Regions from separate parts of the Homo sapiens genome. Here region 2 is linked to region 1. Evidence: fine-mapped expression QTL. A gene starts in region 1. The other region holds a variant in brackets. All regions are shown on one strand. Distances are from middle to middle.

The links. PIP is the estimated chance that this variant, and not a neighbour inherited with it, causes the effect.
Region 2: its variant is the best candidate, but not a certain one, in a credible set for the expression of PDE6C in subcutaneous fat (GTEx, PIP 0.80).

Annotation. Positions count from the first base shown.
Region 1 is chr10:93,606,033-93,616,108 of GRCh38, reverse strand. PDE6C (phosphodiesterase 6C) reads right to left here and starts at 3,572. Exons shown (of 22, transcript NM_006204.4): 1 at 2,904-3,572. The coding sequence starts at 3,383.
Region 2 is chr10:93,653,532-93,661,531 of GRCh38, reverse strand. PDE6C (phosphodiesterase 6C) reads right to left here. Exons shown (of 22, transcript NM_006204.4): 16 at 5,672-5,772; 17 at 2,524-2,631; 18 at 2,365-2,428. Among named protein-coding and RNA genes, the nearest start is that of PDE6C, 45 kb to the right of the region's middle. The variant C/T (reference allele first, on the strand shown) is at 3,654.

The sequences.
Region 1 (10,076 bases):
TGTTTAAATTGTCAAGTGCAATGAAAAGAGGAAGAATTAATCAGATATTTCATTTGAAACATTGGTTTCTACTTCCTTTCCCGTTGCAAATCTTACTGCAGCGGCTAAAGCAAGTGAAACTGCAGGGGTGTAAGGTAGGCAAACAGCACTGGACACATACTCAGCCACCTCCGTTCCAACCCTCCTCATCCACAGACACACACCATGGACCCGGGGGATATACAACTCCTATGGCCTCAACTTCCTGTCCTCCATAGGACAGAGTTGGGCTAAAGACTTCATAAGCCCCTTCCATCTCTAATATTCCACAGCTGATTTGAAATTCACTTCCTCCTCCTGTATCTGCTTACCCAAGAGACCAGTGGTTTTCAACATTGGCTGCATATTAGAAGTAGCTGGGGGAGCTTTTTAAAAATACCAATGCCTGGGCCGGGCGCAGTGGCTCACGCCTGTAATCCCAGCACTTTGAAAGTCCGAGACAGGTGGATCACCTGAGGTCAGGAGTTCAGTACCAGCCTGGCCAACATGGTGAAACCCCGTTTCTACTAAAAATACAAAAATTAGCCAGGCATAGTGGCGCACCTCTGTAGTCCCAGCTACTCAGGATGCTGAGGCAGGATAATTGCTTGAACCCGGGAGGCAGAGGTTGCAGTGAGCCAAGATAGCGCCATCGCACTCCAGCCTGGGTGATGGAGCAAGACTGTCTCAAAAATAAATAAATAATAAAATAAAAATACTAATGCCTGAATTCTAATCTTTGAGAGTCCGCTGTAACAATAAAGCCACCAATATGGTTTTGTGGATTGTGTTTATTTTTTGAGACAGGGTTTCATTCTGTCACCCAGGCTGGAGTGCAGTGTGTGAACACAGCTCACTGCAGCCTTGGCCTCCCAGACTCAGGCCATCCTCCCATCTCAACCTTCCAAGTAGCTGGGACTCCAGGCACACACCACCATGCCTGGCTTATTTTTGTATTTTTGGTAGAGACGGGGGTTTCCCATGTTGGCCAGCCTGGTCTCGAACTCCTGGGCTTAAGCCATCCACCCGCCGTGGCCTCCCAAAATGCTGGGATTACAGGCGTGAGCCACTGCACACAGCTTAATATGGTTTTAATGTACAGCCAGAGTTGGAATCCCCACTCTAGAGAGAAAAAAATGTGAAGAAGCAGTTGAAATGAAGAACCAATGAGGTCTCTTTCTCGTGAGCACAGAACCGTATCTGTCTTCAACACACATTTCTCTGTGTCCCACCCAGAACAGCCAGGAGTCCTCCAGAGAAGAGAGGAGAGACTCCCCACTCCCAGATGAAGTGCTCCGTCCATGCCGTGATGCTCACCATGGACAGCCGCAGACCAAAACCACCTCCAAGCAGCTCCATGCTCTTATTTCCTTCTCACCACAGAGAACTGGGCTAATCAAAGTATAACAGCAGAAATCATTTTACCCATCTCTTCTTTAAAAGCCTTTCAAAAAATTGCTGAATGTCACTTTTTCAAGTTTGATGTGCTAGCAGGGATGGGCTCAGTTGGGGACCCTCAAGGAGCGTATTCCCATGAGAAAAACCTCAGGATGTGCAGACATTGCCTTCCAGTTGGTTGTCTAGAGAACTTTGCCCTAAGGATGAGCATCCATTTAGACACTTGAAGCAGCTGCAGTCAGGCTCAAAAGCAAACTTAACCCAGCTTAAACTTACTGAAAGGAGGAATTATTCAGGACTGAAGCCCTACCAGGCCCCATGGTAACCCTTGCACCTGAGCGGTGTTCTGTGGTTGTTTGCAGAGAGTCACTCGTGTTTGATGACTTCCACACCTCTTGGGTCCGTGTGACCCTCCCCCTATAATCAGCTTCAGGAGGCATTTAGGAGATTATCCTCCTGCCTCTCCAGCTGCCCTATACACCCCTGCACAGAAAGCATTTCACAAGTTGTTCCCATTCAACTCTGTTCCATCATAATCCACTTTTCCCTTTTTGTTAATGGTAAACTGTAATAATGGACCACATGTGTAGAGAAGGAGCTGCCAGGAGAATCTCCAAGCTGGTACCCTTGATTATTGCTGAGGGGAGGGATGATGGGTGATTAGCATTTCCTCCTCTGGTTTATTTGTATCTTATAATTGTTTAAAAATGAACATGTACTCTAATGGTAAGAATAAAGTTTTTCTATTTCTATAAGGGGCATCTCAATGCCTTGTATTTGTGCAGTATGCTGTTGGTCTTCAAGAGGGTCCAAATGTCCCACTTACTTGATTGGAATTCATTCTTGAAAGATCTGGGTTATGGAGCAGTGGGAGTGGTCAATTGCACTTAACCATCACCTAAATTCACATATGTAATGAATTCCAAATTTGAACATCTGAACTTTCAAATGGCATCATTTTTTCTCTTTGCACATTTGGTCGATAGATGAAAGAATTGATTTACTAGCAAATCCATCCAAAAAACCTGAATGTTTTCGAAGGACTGTGAATGAGAGGCATGGGGAGCAGTTCACAAGTCTTGGCATCTGGGCACGTTGGCCCATCTCCCTAGTGGGGTAGTTTGTTTTGCTGGTGTTGCTGAGAAGGAAAGTCCCCCAGAGCACTGGAGGAGGCGTAAGGGAGGGTGTGTGGAATGCACCAGGGCCAGGTAGGATCACCTGATAAAATGCCAAACTTTACATGGGACATACTTATACTTCAGAAAATAATAATTCATTGTTTATCTGAAATTCAAGTTCAACTGGGCAACTTGAAATTTCATTTGCTAAATTTGGCAACACTAGGCCTGGGTGATCCTCTTCCCTGCCACCCACATTCCCCCGGTTATTGCCAAACTAATGCCACAAGGATAGCACTATCTCTCTTTCCCATTTGTTCCTCCCTGACCCTGCCAAGACCTCTGCCCCACTGTCATAAGGCCACCTACCTTTTTCACATCTGGGACATTATGAGTTTTCTTCGTGTGAGCAGCCCAACCCACTATCCCAATGTCCAATGGAAACACAACTTCTTTGTCAGGGCCCACCAGGTTGTCCTCAAACTTGGAGGTGGGGGTGACATCCAGCAACCTAGAGGCCACCTCAGGTATGCCGTTCCGGGACCGGCACAGGAACATGCTGCAGCGGTCAGCCTGGAGCAGGTGGGCCAGCCTCTGCAGGGCCCTGTGAACCCCCTGCTCTGGGGTGCCCCCCTCCTCCTGCACGGTCCACAGCAGCTCCAAGCACAGGGCTGACTCCTCCACCTGGGTCAGCTCAGAGAAGGACATGCTGGACTGGACTGGCACCTGGCTGTTCTTGAAGATTTCTCCCAGCACCTCCACCCGCAACTTCCTGTCAAAGTACTCCTTGGCAAACTGAGGGTTCTCCTCCAGGTATTTCTCCACGGCAACTTGGTTGATCTCACCCATGGTGTGGCTTGCTTTGCTGCGTTTGTTCAGAAAGGACGACCTTCAGAGCACTACCTGAGGCAGAGTGATGAGAAGGAAATTCATCCTGGTGGAAATTACTGAGGAAACCGTAAATGGTCCCTCATAGGACTTCCAAAGGTCAAGCAGAAAGCAGAGCTTTCAAACTGCCTGTAACTCTTGGGATGTGACAGAAGGCCCTGGCTTAGGGTGGGATTCAGGAAGCACAGGATTAAAGAGTTCTTCAGGACACTAAATCCCTGAGCATTAGTAGCTCATAAGTCCCTAGCGAATCTTCAGAGTATCTTAGATCAGCCCAGCAAGTAGCAAGCTGAGGTGTCTATTCCAGAAAAATAACTGAATGTCGGCTGCTGTCCACAGCAAGGAAGAATCACTGACATATCCATGAATGACACGACATTGGCAACAATTGGCACTTTGAATCGTTCTTGTATGATAGCTATAGGAAGTAAAACTATTTAGACCTCGGAAGTGCTTGGATTTTTTTTGTTTATATAGCAACTGTAATGAACATCTGGGAGATATGGAACAGTTTGCATCACTGCAACATAAAGGTGAATATTAATCTTTCCTTTTCTTAAAAGTCTTTTGATCACCAAGGTTGCTTGGCCTCCTCTTTCTCTAGAACCTTCACCTCTCAATCCCTGTCACTTCAGAAAGCTTGACCTCAGAAGTGTTTTAAAGGAGTAAACCTCAAGCTTATTACTAAAGAGGTGAACATAGCAAAATATTTGCCAATGATCCAAACCTAATCAAGTCATGAATTGAATAATAACCCTTGTCGAGAGACTGTAATTACAAAAGGTAACCTACATAGTTGCTGGCTGGGTTTTTCTGCTAAGTATCTTAGTTAGGATTTTGTTTTCAATAGTAATAGCCAGAGGTCATGCGATTTTGCTACAACATACAGTCTACTAAATCTACTAGATGATAGATATCTTGTCTGTTGCTAGGATCCTTAACGTCTCAGGGGCTACTGGCATAGAAAGAACACTTACCACTACTTAGTTTTGTTTAATGTTCACTTTACTAAGCTTTTACATCTATTAAACACATTTCCTCAAATATTTAAACACTATTATGCAACTAATAATTCAAACTATTAATTCATGAACCAATTGCCTTCGATACTTAAATGTTGGTTTCAAACTTAGTCAAGGTGTTTTAAACACTTCAATAAAGCTACAAACCTAATATGACAAATTCTCTTAAGTGGAAAACACACACATGTTACAGTGACTCTAAAAATTATTGTTACACCCACATTTAAGTTTGCTTCAAAAATAGAAACCCTATGAGTTTCATTGAGTTCTCTAAGATTTACCTCTCTAGATAGTAATCTTTTTCTTTTTTTTTTTTTTTTTTTTTGAGACTGAGTCTCGCTCTATTGCCAGGCTGGAGTGCAGTGGTGCGATCTCAGCTCACTGCAACCTCCGTCTCCTAGGTTCAAGTGATTCTCCTGCCTCAGCCTCCCGAGTAGCTGGGACTACAGGTGGGTGCCACCACGCCCAGCTAATTTTTGTATTTTTGGTAGAGATGGGGTTTCACCATGTTGGCCAGGCTAGTCTTGAACTCCCAACCTCAGGTGATCCACCTGTGTCAGCCTGAGAGATAGTAATCTTAATAGTCACAAAAGAAAGAGAGATCCGTTGAGGTTGCACATTCCCTGTCATGAATTGAGAGATTCTTGGTGGGAAACATGGTTTTCCCAGGGGTACAGAAAGAGTCATTTGTTGAGTTATGCCACTTCTTGTGATTGAGCTTCACCTGCTACCTCAAAGCACCTTGTCAGGTGCACATATTTTCTTGGACTGTCCTATGTCACACTCAACTCTACTCTCAGGAGGTTCCTCTTTGGGTGACTATTTACTTCATAACACCCTGTTATTATAAATAGGATAATGCAGAAGTGTATTTCCCAGGAGAGAGTTGAGTCAACTGAGTCACCCCTCCTATGGGACCATCTTCCTTATCTAACAATTTTGGACACTCTTTTTTACCTAGTTATTTTGTGTGACTCATGGTACAGTTCCTACTTCTCCTGTAAGTATGTGGTGTGCTCACGATTTCCTGGTTTCATCCTTCCCTCTTGAAACAGAGAGGGAAAAACACATATTTGCATTTCATATACAGACTTATACTTAATAGAAAAAGAAAAAACAAAATGCCCATATATGTTCAACTTTCATAATCTTTTTTTTTTTTTTTTTGAGACAGAGTCTTGCTCTATTGCCCAGGCTAGAGTGCAGTGGTGCGATCTCGGCTCACTGCAACCTCTGCCTCCTGGGTTCATGCCATTCTCCTGCCTCAGCCTCCCGAGTAGCTGGGACTACAGGCTCCTGCCACCATGCCCGGCTAATTTTTTGTATTTTTAGTAGAGACGGGGTTTCACTGTGTTAGCCAGGATGATCTTGATCTCCTGACCTCGTGATCCACCCGCCTCGGCCTCCCAAAGTGCTGGGATTACAGGTATGAGCCACCGTGCCCGGCCCATCTTTCATAATCTTATAAAAGTGAATATTAATTTGAAAAAGAAACATCCTATTATAGTCAGCATTCTTTTGTTTTTATAACTAGTTAGAGATTCATTCATTTGTTCATTCTTTCTTTCTTTTTTGTTTTTTTGAGATGGAGTCTCCCTCTATTGCCCAGGCGCGATCTTGGCTTACTGCAACCTCCGCCTCCCGGGTTCAAGCGAATCTCTTGCCTCAGCCTCCGGAGTAGCTGGGATTACAGGTGCATGCCACCATACCTGGCTAATTTTTTTGTATTTTTAGTAGAGACAAGGTTTCACCATGTTGGCCAGGCTGGTCTCGAACTCTTTAGGTAATCTGCCCTCCTTGGCCTCCCAAAGTGCTGGGATTACAGGTGTGAGCCACTTCACCTGGCCTCATTTGTTCATTCTTTCAACATTTGTCTATTGATTGTCTGTTACAAGCAAGGCACCATTCTAGCTATTGTGATAGAGACTTCAAGTTCCCCTTATATTATATGATTGTTTCCTTCTCCCAGTTACATGGGAAGATTACTCTTCCTCCCTCTGGTACAGCCATGTGACTGATTTTAACAAATGGTTTGTGGGCAGAAATATCACTTTCAGACAGGAACAATTAATTGCCAACGGGAGGCTCTCCAGGTCTCTGTTCCCTCTGCTGCCACATCAGTTTCAGATGAAAGGGCCCCTGAATCCCAGAGTGAGGATGTCATGTAACAGAGGCCCCTGGATGACCCGAGATGGACATGTAGCATGATGAGAAATAAACTTGTCTTGTTTTCAGCCTCGGAGACCTGAGGGTTGTTGTTACTGCAGCATCACCAAGACAATTCTGACAGTTACACTTCTACTGTCGGGGACTCAGGGGGTGGTCCCAGCATTACAAGCACTTGTGGTGTGGGAAGGGAGGTAAGACTAGTGCGTAAAAAGCCCATGAGACATAGAACAGAATACAATTAATGCTGGAAGTGAGGCACATGTACATGGCTATCGGAGTTCACGAAAGGGATCATATCTAGTGTGGCTGAAGACAGGGTAGAAATCAAGAGTGTTCAGAAGCAATAGCATGGGGTGTAGGGTAATACAGGGAGGACAGTGAGAGGTGACCCTGAAAAGGTGGGCCGGGCCCAGATTAGAAGGGCTTCAAAGCCTAGACTGAGGATTTTGAATCCTGGACAATTTTTGAAGTGGGAGGCAACATTATTAGTGTTCTTCTTTACAAACTTAAGGAGGAAGATAAGTTGGAGGAAAACAGAATACTGGACATTGGGATACAGATTAAGATACTTTATTGCATTTGGCTTATTATCAAACAACCTAAAAATGTGTATAGGCTTTGACCCCACAATTCTGCTTTTATGAATTCATCTTAGAGAAATAATTAAGAATGTATGTGATTAATATAGTTGCAAGGGTGCTTACCATGAGTGTGGGTATAAAAGTAAAAGATCAGAAATAGCCTAGACACTTAATAGTAGGAGGTTGAGTAAATAAATGGTATTAGATCTGTAAAATAGAAAGCTACGCAGCTATTAGGTTGGTACAAAAATAATAGCGATTTTCCCCATTACTTTTAGTGGCAAAAACCGCAATTACTTTTGTACCAACCTAATAATATTGTTAAAGTCTATTGACATGAAAAAATATTTATGATATGCAGTTAATTACAAACAGTATTGCAGCATAATTCCATTAATATGCACAGACAGAGGTATATATACCAAAATATTAAGTGAAATTATTTCAAGGCAGGACACAGTGGCTCATGCCTATAATCCCAGCACTTTGGGAGGCCGAGACAGGCAAATTACTTGAACTCAGGAGTCTGACAGCAGCCTAGGCAACATGGTGAAACCCCGCCCTACAAAAAATTACAAAAATTAGCTGGGCTTGGTGGCACATGCCTGTAGTCTCAGCTGAGACTGGGACTGAGATGGGGGGATGGCTTGAGATCAGGAGGTAGAGGCTGCAGGGAGCTGTGATCGCACCACCGCACTCCAACCTGGGCGACTGAACAAGAACCTATCTCAGAAAAAAAAAGTTATTTCAAAGTGGTGGGATTCAAGACATTAATTTTTTTCTTCTTTTTTGCTTACCTGATTTTTGTAAAGCATCTACAATGAACATATATACTTTATGTAATAAAGAAATTAAGTCATTCATAAACAAAGATTTTGAGGTTATCTCTGCAGTCTATGGGTGAAGTTGCTTGGGAATGAAAAAGAAAAGGACAAATGTGAGACACAATCCAGCAAATGTGTCATGACAATTGACAGGACGAGGCAATTGATTAGTTAGAAAAAGCACACAAGAGAAGGGGTCACTGTTAACTACTTTGAGTGTTGAGCGAAGTTATGGACTGAACGTTTGTATTCCCCTAAAACTCATCTGTTGAAATCCTAACCTCTAATGTGATGGTATTAGACGGTATGGCCTTCAGGATGTGACTAGGTCATGAGGATGGAACCCTCACAAGTGGTATTAGTGCCCTTATTAAAGGGCCCCCAGAGAGCTCTCCAGCCCTCTTTCTTCCATGTGAGGATACCAGGAGAAGATGGCTGTCTGTGACCTGGAAGAGGAAGATGGCCATCACTGAACCTGACCATGCTGGCACCCTGACCTCAGACCTCCAGCTTCCAGAACTATGAGCCACTCCTTCTATGACACTTTGTTATAGCCACCTGAACTAAGACAAATGACATTTTATCAAAGATTTTTAAATGGGTAATATTAGAAGCCTCCTTTTAGCACACACACCAATAGCCTTTTCTTTCTTTCTTGTTCTTGATGAAGTCCTGTGATTTCCATAGCTCTTCCTCTTGGGATAGTTCTTTGCAGAGCTTCTTGCCAGTGTTAGCAAGATCTTTGTGTCTCTTATTGGCTGTCTGCTACTAGGCACTGAAAAAAACAAAATCAATTTCAGAAAATAACATATTTTATTTTTTAAAATGTCTGATTCAGGTGGTACACGTGTAGGTTTTTATATGGGTATATTGCATGATGCTGAGGTTTGAGCTTCAGTTGAACCCATCACCCAGATAGGGAGCATAGTACTCAATACGTAGTTTTTCAACCCTTTCCTTTGTCCTTGTGGAGGCCCCAGTGCCTATTGTTCCCATCATTGTGTCCATGTATACTCAATGTTTAGCTCTCACTTATAAGTAAGAACATGTGGTATTTGGTTTTCTGTTCCTGCATTAATTCACTTAGGATAATGGCCTCCAGCTGCATCCATGTTGCTGCATAGGACATGATTTTGTTTTTTGTATGGCTGCATAGTATTCCATTGGTGCATATGTACCACATTTTCTTTACCCAGTTCACCGCTGATGGGCACCTGGGTTGATTCCATGTCTTTGCTATTGTGAATAGTGCTGTGATAAACTTGTGAGTGCAGGTGTCTTTTAGGTAGCATGATCTATTTTCTTTTGGGTTTCTACTGGATAGACACCCAGTAATGGGATTGCTGGGTCAAATGGGAGTTCTATTGTTAGTTCTTTGAGAAATCTCAACACTGTTTTCCGGAGGGACTGAACCAATTTACAATCCCACCAACAGCATATGAGTGTTCCTTTTTCTCCACAACCTTACCAACATCTGCTATTTTTTGACTTTTTAATAACAGCCATACTGTCTGGTGCGAAAGGTTTTGATTTGCATTTCTCTAATGATTAGTGATGTTGAACATTTTTTCATATGTTTGTTGGCTGCTTGTATGTCTTCTTTTGAGAAATACCTGTCCCTGTCCTTTGCCCACTTTTTAATGGGGTAATTTGTTTTCTTCTTGTTGATTTGTTTTTTATAGATTCTAGATATTAGTCCTTTGTCAGATGCATAGTTTGCTAATATTTTCTCCCATTTCGTAGAGTGTCTGTTTACTCTGTTGATAGTGTCTTTTGCTGTGCAGAAGCTCTTTAGTTTAATTAGGTCCCACGTGTCAATTTTTGTTTTTGTCGTGTTTTCTTTTGAGGACTTAGTCATAAATTCTTTGCCTAGGCTGATGTTCAGAAGAGTGTTTCCTAGGTTTTCTTCTAGGATTTTTATAGTTTGAAGTCTTACATTTAAGTCTTTAATCCATCTTGAGTCAGTTTTTGTAGCTGGTGAGAGGTAGGGGTCAAGTTTCATTCTTCTGCATATATTTAGCCAATTTTCCCAGCACCATTTATTAAATAGGATGGAAA
Region 2 (8,000 bases), 46 kb before region 1:
TAAGGGGTGATCTTTTTCTTTAAAATGTTCAGAGTCTAGCGAAGACAGTCATGTATACAGTGTGGTAAGTGCTGTAACAATAATAGTGTAAGTGCTATGGGTCAGGGAGAAGGGAGTAAAGATAAGTTTCATGAAGGAAGGAGGTGGCATTTATGTTGTATTGTGAAGAACAAGAGTAATTTTCCAGGAAAAGAGGAGGGGAAGAATATTTGCCGAGATAAAATGGAACGTACAAAGCTTCTGTGAGTGCAGGCTTAGAGTGTGAAGCAATGACATGGGAGAAGGTGATGGGAATTGATGCTGGGAGTGTGAGTTGAGGACAGGCAGTGACAGGCCATGTAAATTTTGCCAGGAAGCTTGAATTTGATTCTCTAGGCCAGTGCTGTTTACTCTTGGAGTCTAGGGTTCCCCTGAAGTGCTCTAGGGCCCAAGAAGGTGGAGACCAAGAGAGATGAAAGCTAAAGTAGCTTTGCTTTTTTCTCTTTTATAAAGTGATCTTTGGGCAAGTTTTGTTGGGAGAAAATAGACTTTACTTCTTTGGGAAAGAAGTTGGAAACCTCTGGCAATGGGGAGTATGAGCCTTTTAAGGAGTAGAATGGCTGAGTTGAGCTCTGTGTAGAGACATCCTGGCAGCAAGTCAGAGGATGACTTGTGGAGTTGATGTGAGCATCTATTAGGAGGCTGCTACCATAGTTCTGATAAAAGTCAGAACTGAGGTACTAGCGAGGCTGATATAAATGATTTTGAAATGAGGGAGATAAGCTCAAGCAGGACCCCAGGTTTCTAGCTTGGGTGACCTCATCGATAAAGAACAGAGGAAGAAGAGCAGGCATGTCGAGGTGGAAGGAGAGGAAGCATTTGGTTTTGGACTTGATGGTGACGGAGTTCAGGACACCCTGCCCCCAAATATTTTAAGGTGACGGAATTTGAGGAAACTAAAGCAGCAGGAAGATCAGTCTCACCTTCCCCCGACCTTCTCCCCTGAAGTAGGTCATAAAACCAGGTAAGGATTTTCTGACCTTCCCCTGAAGCAGATCATAAGACCTTCATTCAAGAGGTGCCCTCCCTATTCCTGGAGGAAAGGAGCCAGAGACACAAAGATGCCAAGAAGAATCTGAACAAATCGGCCTTGCTAAGCTGCCTCACGATTAGATCATACCCTCTTTGTTGAATTCTATTTCTCCATGACTATCTAATTCATCCAACCTAGCATAAAACATACAAGTTTAACTGTTTCTTAGGGTCTTTGTTTCCTCACGAAGGCTCCTGTATTACATGTAAAACAAATAAACGTGTACGCTTTTCTCTTGTTAATCTGTCTTTTGTTATAGGGGCCTCAGTCATGAAGCTAGGATGGGTGAGAAATAGATATTTTTTCTCCCCTACACTGAGTTCTAATTATTCTATCTTTTTAAAAAGATACAACCCACTTTTATAGTTAAACCCATTTAATTCTGGGCTCTCTTCTGCTTAGGGGTTTCCCTAGAAATTACTGGAGGAAAAAGGAAGGTTTTTTCATCCAATTAGTAAGAAAGCAAGTGGTAGACTAGTGCCTCCCCAAGGTGGGGGAAGAACTTCAGTGGAAGGCAACCTTAGACATCATCTCACAGTCAGTGCCTTCTTATAATTCACAGCACATTGAAGAAGAGACTATAGGAGCAAAAACACCCTTGATAGAGGAAAACACTAACGATGCATCCTGATCTTGTTCTGACTTACCTCATTGATATAGTTTGGCTATGTCCCCACACAAATCTCATCTTGAATTGTAGTTCCCATAATTCCCAATTCATGGGAGTGACCCAGTGGGAGGTAATTGGATCATGGGGACAAATCTTTCCCGTGCTGTTCTAGTGATATTAAGTAAGTCTCACAAGATCTGATGGTTTTATAAAGGGGAGTTCCCCTGCACACGCTCTCTCTTGCCTGCCACCACATAAGACATCCCTTTGCTCTTCCTTCATCTTCCACCATGATTGTGAGGCCTCCCCAGCCATGTGGAACTGTGAGTTCATTAAACCTCTTTCCTTTATAAATTACCCAGTCTCGGGTATGTCTTTATTAGCAGCAGCATGAGAACAGGCTAATACACTCCTCTATTTAAAAACTCAGACATTTCTTGGATAATTTTATATAAATTATTTACAGTGTTTCAATGTTAAAGAATTCTTTCAAGAAAGAATTCTCCTTCCAAAGTTCCTTCTATTTGCTTTATTCTAGGGCCTAATCAAATTGCCTACTGTCTCACTAATATTTGTAATTTTTCAGAATTCTGAGGTTGCCTGAGATCTTTAGGTGGACATTTACATGGGACCTAGGCAGTACCTGACAGTGTGACAGAAAAGAAAACTTAACTGGACTCACCTGACTTTGCACCTCCCAGGGCTTGGTAATAGCAGACAAGTCACATGCCGTCATCATCATTGCCCTTAGGAAGAAAACAAAAAATTTTAAAATAGAAATAAGTACAAAATAAGTTATTTTTACAAAAAACAAGAGAGAAATACAATTTCAACTACCTACATGATAATCTCTTTCTTGGTTGGATCAACAGTTACATATTTGATGGCTTCTTCTTCCGTTTGCATTTGTTCACAGGCATCAACAATTTTTTGAAACATGGTCCTCTTCCTAGAAAAGATACAGCTGTGAGCAACAATTTTAGCTTATGAAAAGAGAGAAAAAATATCTTAAATACATGCTTTTCAGATTTCACGTTCCCACTTTGCATTGTGATGTCCACATAGCAAAGTCTACAGGGCCAGAAAATACGAGAGCAGAGAATGGTGGTATAACTTTGGCTCAGAAAGGGTTTAAGGCAGAAAAAGCACAAACCATACAGAGAGAGAGAGAGAGAGAGAGGGAAAAACAAAACAAAACAGGTAACTTGGAATACATTACAACGAAAAAGTTACATATAAGGCCGGGTGCAGTGGCTCACATCTATAATCCCAGCACTTTGGGAGACTAAGGTGGGAGGATTGCTTGAAGCCGGGAGTTTTAAACCAGCCTGGGCAACAAAGCAAGACCCTGTCTCTTTAAAAATGAAAGTAAATACAAAATTACATATGAGAAAAGAGACCATAACCTAAAAATAAAGGCCCCAAACTATGATAAGATATCACAACACATATAGCCAACAAAAAGTTGGAACCCAAAACACACGGATGTCCAGCTGGTCTCACTACTAATCAAGAAACTACAAATTTGAACAATAAGATATTATCTCACACTCATTATATTAGCAAAATAAAATTTCAATTTGCTGAGTTCAAGAGTACTTCAGATGTGGTATTTTTCTTTTTCTTTCTTTCTTTCTTTCTTTTCTTTTTCTTTTTCTTTTTTTTTTTTTTTTTTTTTTTGAGACAGAATCTTGCTCTACCACTCAGGCTGGAGTGAAATAGCTTGATCCTAGCTCACTGGAACCTTGAACTCCTAGGCTTAAGGGATCCTCCCACTTCAGCCTACCGAGTAGGTGGGACTACAGGCATGCTCCAGCATGCCTGGCTAATTTTTTAATTTTTTTGTAGAGACAGTCTTGCTATGTTGCCCAGGCTGGTCTCAAATTCCTGGCCTCAAGTGATCCTCCTGCCTTGGCCTCCCAAAGTGCTGAGATTACAGGCATGAGCCACCTCACTCAGCTGGAACTCTTG[C/T]ACACTGTGTGTGGGAGTGCTAACTGGCACAACTTCTCAGGAGTGCAGTTTTGTAATGTAGCATGAAATTGAAGACATGCAAATCCTACAGCATTGTCACTTTTACATTTCTTAGAGAAACTCTCATATATATATACAGGGACATACAAGGTAGCATTGTAGGCAATGATGAAAAATTAGAAACAATTGAAATGTCTATGAATAGAAGACTGGGTAAATTAATTATGAATATTCAACAGTTGAATACTCTATTCAGTTAAAATGGATGCATTGGAGCTCCATTTATTATCAATGATAAATCTTTGAAACACAATGTTGCATGAATAAAGCAAGTTGCAGAAAGGTATGTACAGACAGTATGATACCACCTATGGACAATTTGAAAACACACAACAGGTTGGGCGAGGTGGCTCACGCCTCTAATCCCAGCATTTTGGGAGGCCAAGGTGGGTGGATCACGAGGTCAGGAGATAGAGAGACCATCCTGGCCAACATGGTGAAACCCCATCTCTACTAAAATACAAAAAAAAAAAAAAAAAAAAAAAAAAAATTAGCCAGGCGTGGTGACGTGTGCCTGTAGTCCTAGCTACTCTGGAGGCTGAGGCAGAAGAATCACTTGAACCCAGGAGGCAGAGATTACAGTGAGCCGAGATTGCGCCACTGCACTCCAGCCTGGTGACAGAGTGAGACTCCGTCGCAAAAAAACCAAGAAACCAAACAAAAAAAACAACACACAACAATACCATATAAAAACATGGATGGAAATTATGAATACACATCAACGTCAGACGGTGATATCTTTGTGGAAGAAGGGAAGGGATTTTTCATAGTGGAGTAGGGGTGGAATACCTCAATTGCATCACTAGTTTTTTTCTCCTTATAAAGCAAAATCTGAGGCAAATATGGCAAAATTTCGCATTTGTTAAATTTAGGCTATAGATATTTGGATATCCATTTTATTATTCTTAGTATTTGTCTTCACATTGAACTATTTAATAATTAAATATTCAGGCCCAGTGCAACGGCTCACACCTGTAATCCCAGCACTTTGGGAGGGCCAGGTGGGCAGATCAGTTGAGGTCGGGAGTTCAAGACCAGCCTGGCCAACATGGTGAAACCCATCTCTACTAAAAATATAAAAATTAGCCAGATGTGGTGGTGGGAGACTGAAGTCCCAGCTACTCAGGAGGCTGAGGCAGGAGAATCGCTTGAACCTTGGAGGCCGAGATTGCAGTGACCCGAGGTTGTGCCACTGCACTCCAGCCCAGGTGACAGAGTGAGACCTGTATAATAATACATATAATAATAATAATAAATAATAAATAAATATTTAGTGAAGGATCAGAAAGGCATAATTTGACAATGCCCAAGCCACTGAATATTTCCATCCTATAACTAGTTCATCTTGTTCTAACCCATTTTCATCAAGCAACTTTATAGTTCACTTATGAGAAAATGTGGAGATACTGGGAGTATCTGGTCTCCTTGGCAATATTACTGTTGTAAATAGGCTGGCTCTCTGTTACGTATGACTCAGTTTTGTAAGTTTGGTTAATGTGTGTCAATGCCATCAAAATTGTTCAGCTCCCAGACTTTGACAGAATTAAATTTCTGAGGCTGAAACATTAAAATGCCAGATTCTGGACCATAGAGAATTCACCTGGACAAAAAGCCACCTTGAGAGGTCTCTTGGCTTCACTCTTTTGACAAGGCACAAACTTGGCTGCACATTCTGCAATTCAAACCTGTTCGGAGAGCAACCTACTTAATATTAGGAGCTTATGTTTTTAAAATATGTTCCCAGAGGTCTAGTAAATTTACTGGCAGGCATCTGTCTTGAAGATACTCTACTTGGTAATCCAAAAGGAGAGCAAATTTTGTGTGTATGTGTGTGTGTGTGTCTGTGTGTGTGTATGTGTGTGAATAAATGCCTTTTAACATTAATGCAACAGATAATTTATGGAAGGTAAAACCACACAGAGTATAGGGCATTCCACTGTGCAGAGTTATGTACTTACTTGAAATATAAAGCCAGGTCAGTTGCTATTATTGCGACCTCGAACAAATGAATAACTGTTTCAAACTGCCGCTTATTTAGGTTCTGGAAGATGTTTAAACTCTGTAAGATGAAAATTCACAATAAAATGCTATCAATAATTTGCCTCTGAACAAATGAAACTATGCTTAACAAGAAGAAAATCTAAAAGTCTTTCAACACTTTTTTGTTTGTTTTTTTTTTGTTTTCCTTCCTTTTTTTTTTTTTTTTTTGGCTTGCTTTTAGTTTTTATCTCATGGACTAAGCAAACCCCTCTACTATACTTTAAGTAAGATAATTTAATTTAAACTATAAAAATAGATACTGTTAGCCAATATTCATGTAATCAGTGTTTAACTTTTTGGAGTAAATAAATGTTTTCTTCTAGGACCATTAAAATAAATAACAATAGATTAAAAATGTGCTTGTATTAATTGAGAAGCTTTAATAAAGAATTTCTGGGAGAAGTCCAACTGTCAGACATGTTACTTTATCTACCAGGTAATTTTAGAGTGATCATAGAAACCACTGGTCTTTCAGAAATTGCAAATTACACTCATATTCGTGTATATGTAGGAAAAAATAATGAAATCCTTCCACATTATCCTGAAAATGTTTTCATGCAATTCTATTTTACCAAGACTTAACTAGACCTTTCTTCAAAGAGTTTCTCACTACATCTCTTCACATAAGGATCAGCTTCATTTCTTAGCATTCTAGAAAATGAGAATATAGGCCGAGCATGGTGGCTCATGCTTGTAGCACTTTGGGAGGCGGAGGTGGGTAGATGGCTTGAGCTCAGGAGTTCAAGACCAGCCTGGGCAACATGGTGAGACTCCTGTCTCTACTAAAAATATGGAAATACAAAAATAGCTGGGTGTGGTGGTATGTGCCTGGGGTCCCACCTACTCAGGAGGCCAAGGTGGTAGGATTGCTTAACGCTGGGGACTGGAGGTTGCAGTGAACTGAGACTGTGCCATTGCACTCCAGCTTGGGTGACAGAGAGAGACCCTGTTTCAAAAAAAAAAAAAAAGAAAGAAAGAAAGAAAGAAAGAAAGAAAGAAAGAAAGAAAGAAAGAAAGAAAGAAAGAAAATGAGTATATAAGCTGGGGGTGGTTTCTTAAAGCCCAGTTATTCCAAATAGACCATTTTAGTCATACAGGCCAAATGACAGATAGATAGTGATTTTGCCAAATGAATTTGACAGTTACAAAATACAGAAAAACTCCACTGGAAAGAAAGAGGAGATAGTCTATCAAACTATATAAAGAGAGAAGTAGCATAATGCCAAAAACAATACTGTCCTGAACACCAAATAATAACAGTAAACACTTACTTAGTTCTTACTACCTACCAGGCTCTAAGTGCTTTGTGAATATTCTTAATCTCTTCACAACAGACCCCAGCACAGAGAGGTGAAGTAACTTGCCCGAGGTTAAACAGCTAGAATGTGGCAGAACTGGTGTCTAAGCCAGTGCAGCATGGTTCCAGAGTCTGTGCTCCTAATCTCTGCACCACACTACATTACCTCTCAAGAGGGAACCCAGGTTCATTTCCTGGCTTCCCCACTTTGGCAGTGGTATAATCCTAGAGACTTCACTTAACATCTGTATTTGTTTTCTCATATGGGCATAATAACAGCTGCCCTGCCTAACTGCCTAGCACTTAGTCTATGCTCAATTAATATCTGTGGAATGCTGAATCAAATGAAATGACAACTGTGAATGCATTTTAAAACTGTAAATCGCTGTTAAAATTTATTGTTGTATCATTATTATTATTACGTAAAGTTATGAGGCTAGCTCCTGGTAGAAATAGAATTGCAAACCTAAGACCAAATATGGCTCAGTCATTTCAGAAGATTGAAATATTAGAAAGCAATAATTGGACAAGAACTCAAGTTTTAGACACTACACTATGCCTTATATAAATCTTCCCTTAAGTCATCTTTTTATAACATTTTCTAGGACAAGAAAAGTGGTGTTTTACAAAGCATATATAAGTAATAGAAGGGAAAATTGTGATTTGTTTTGTCAACATAATGAGTTCATCATAGCAACTATAGTTAAACTTTTAAAATAGCTAGAATGAAGCAATGGGTGTTGACCAGTCTAAATTACAAAAACAAAAGAGAGATTATCTGGATCAAAATCAATGTTTTTTTTTGTTTTTGTTTTTGTTTTTGTTTTTGTTTTTTTTTGAGATGGAGTCTCACTCTGTTGCCCAGGCTGGAGTGCAGTGGCACAATCTCAGCTCACTTCAGCCTCTGCCTCCTGGGTTCAAGCGATTCTCCTGCCTCAGCCTCCCAAATA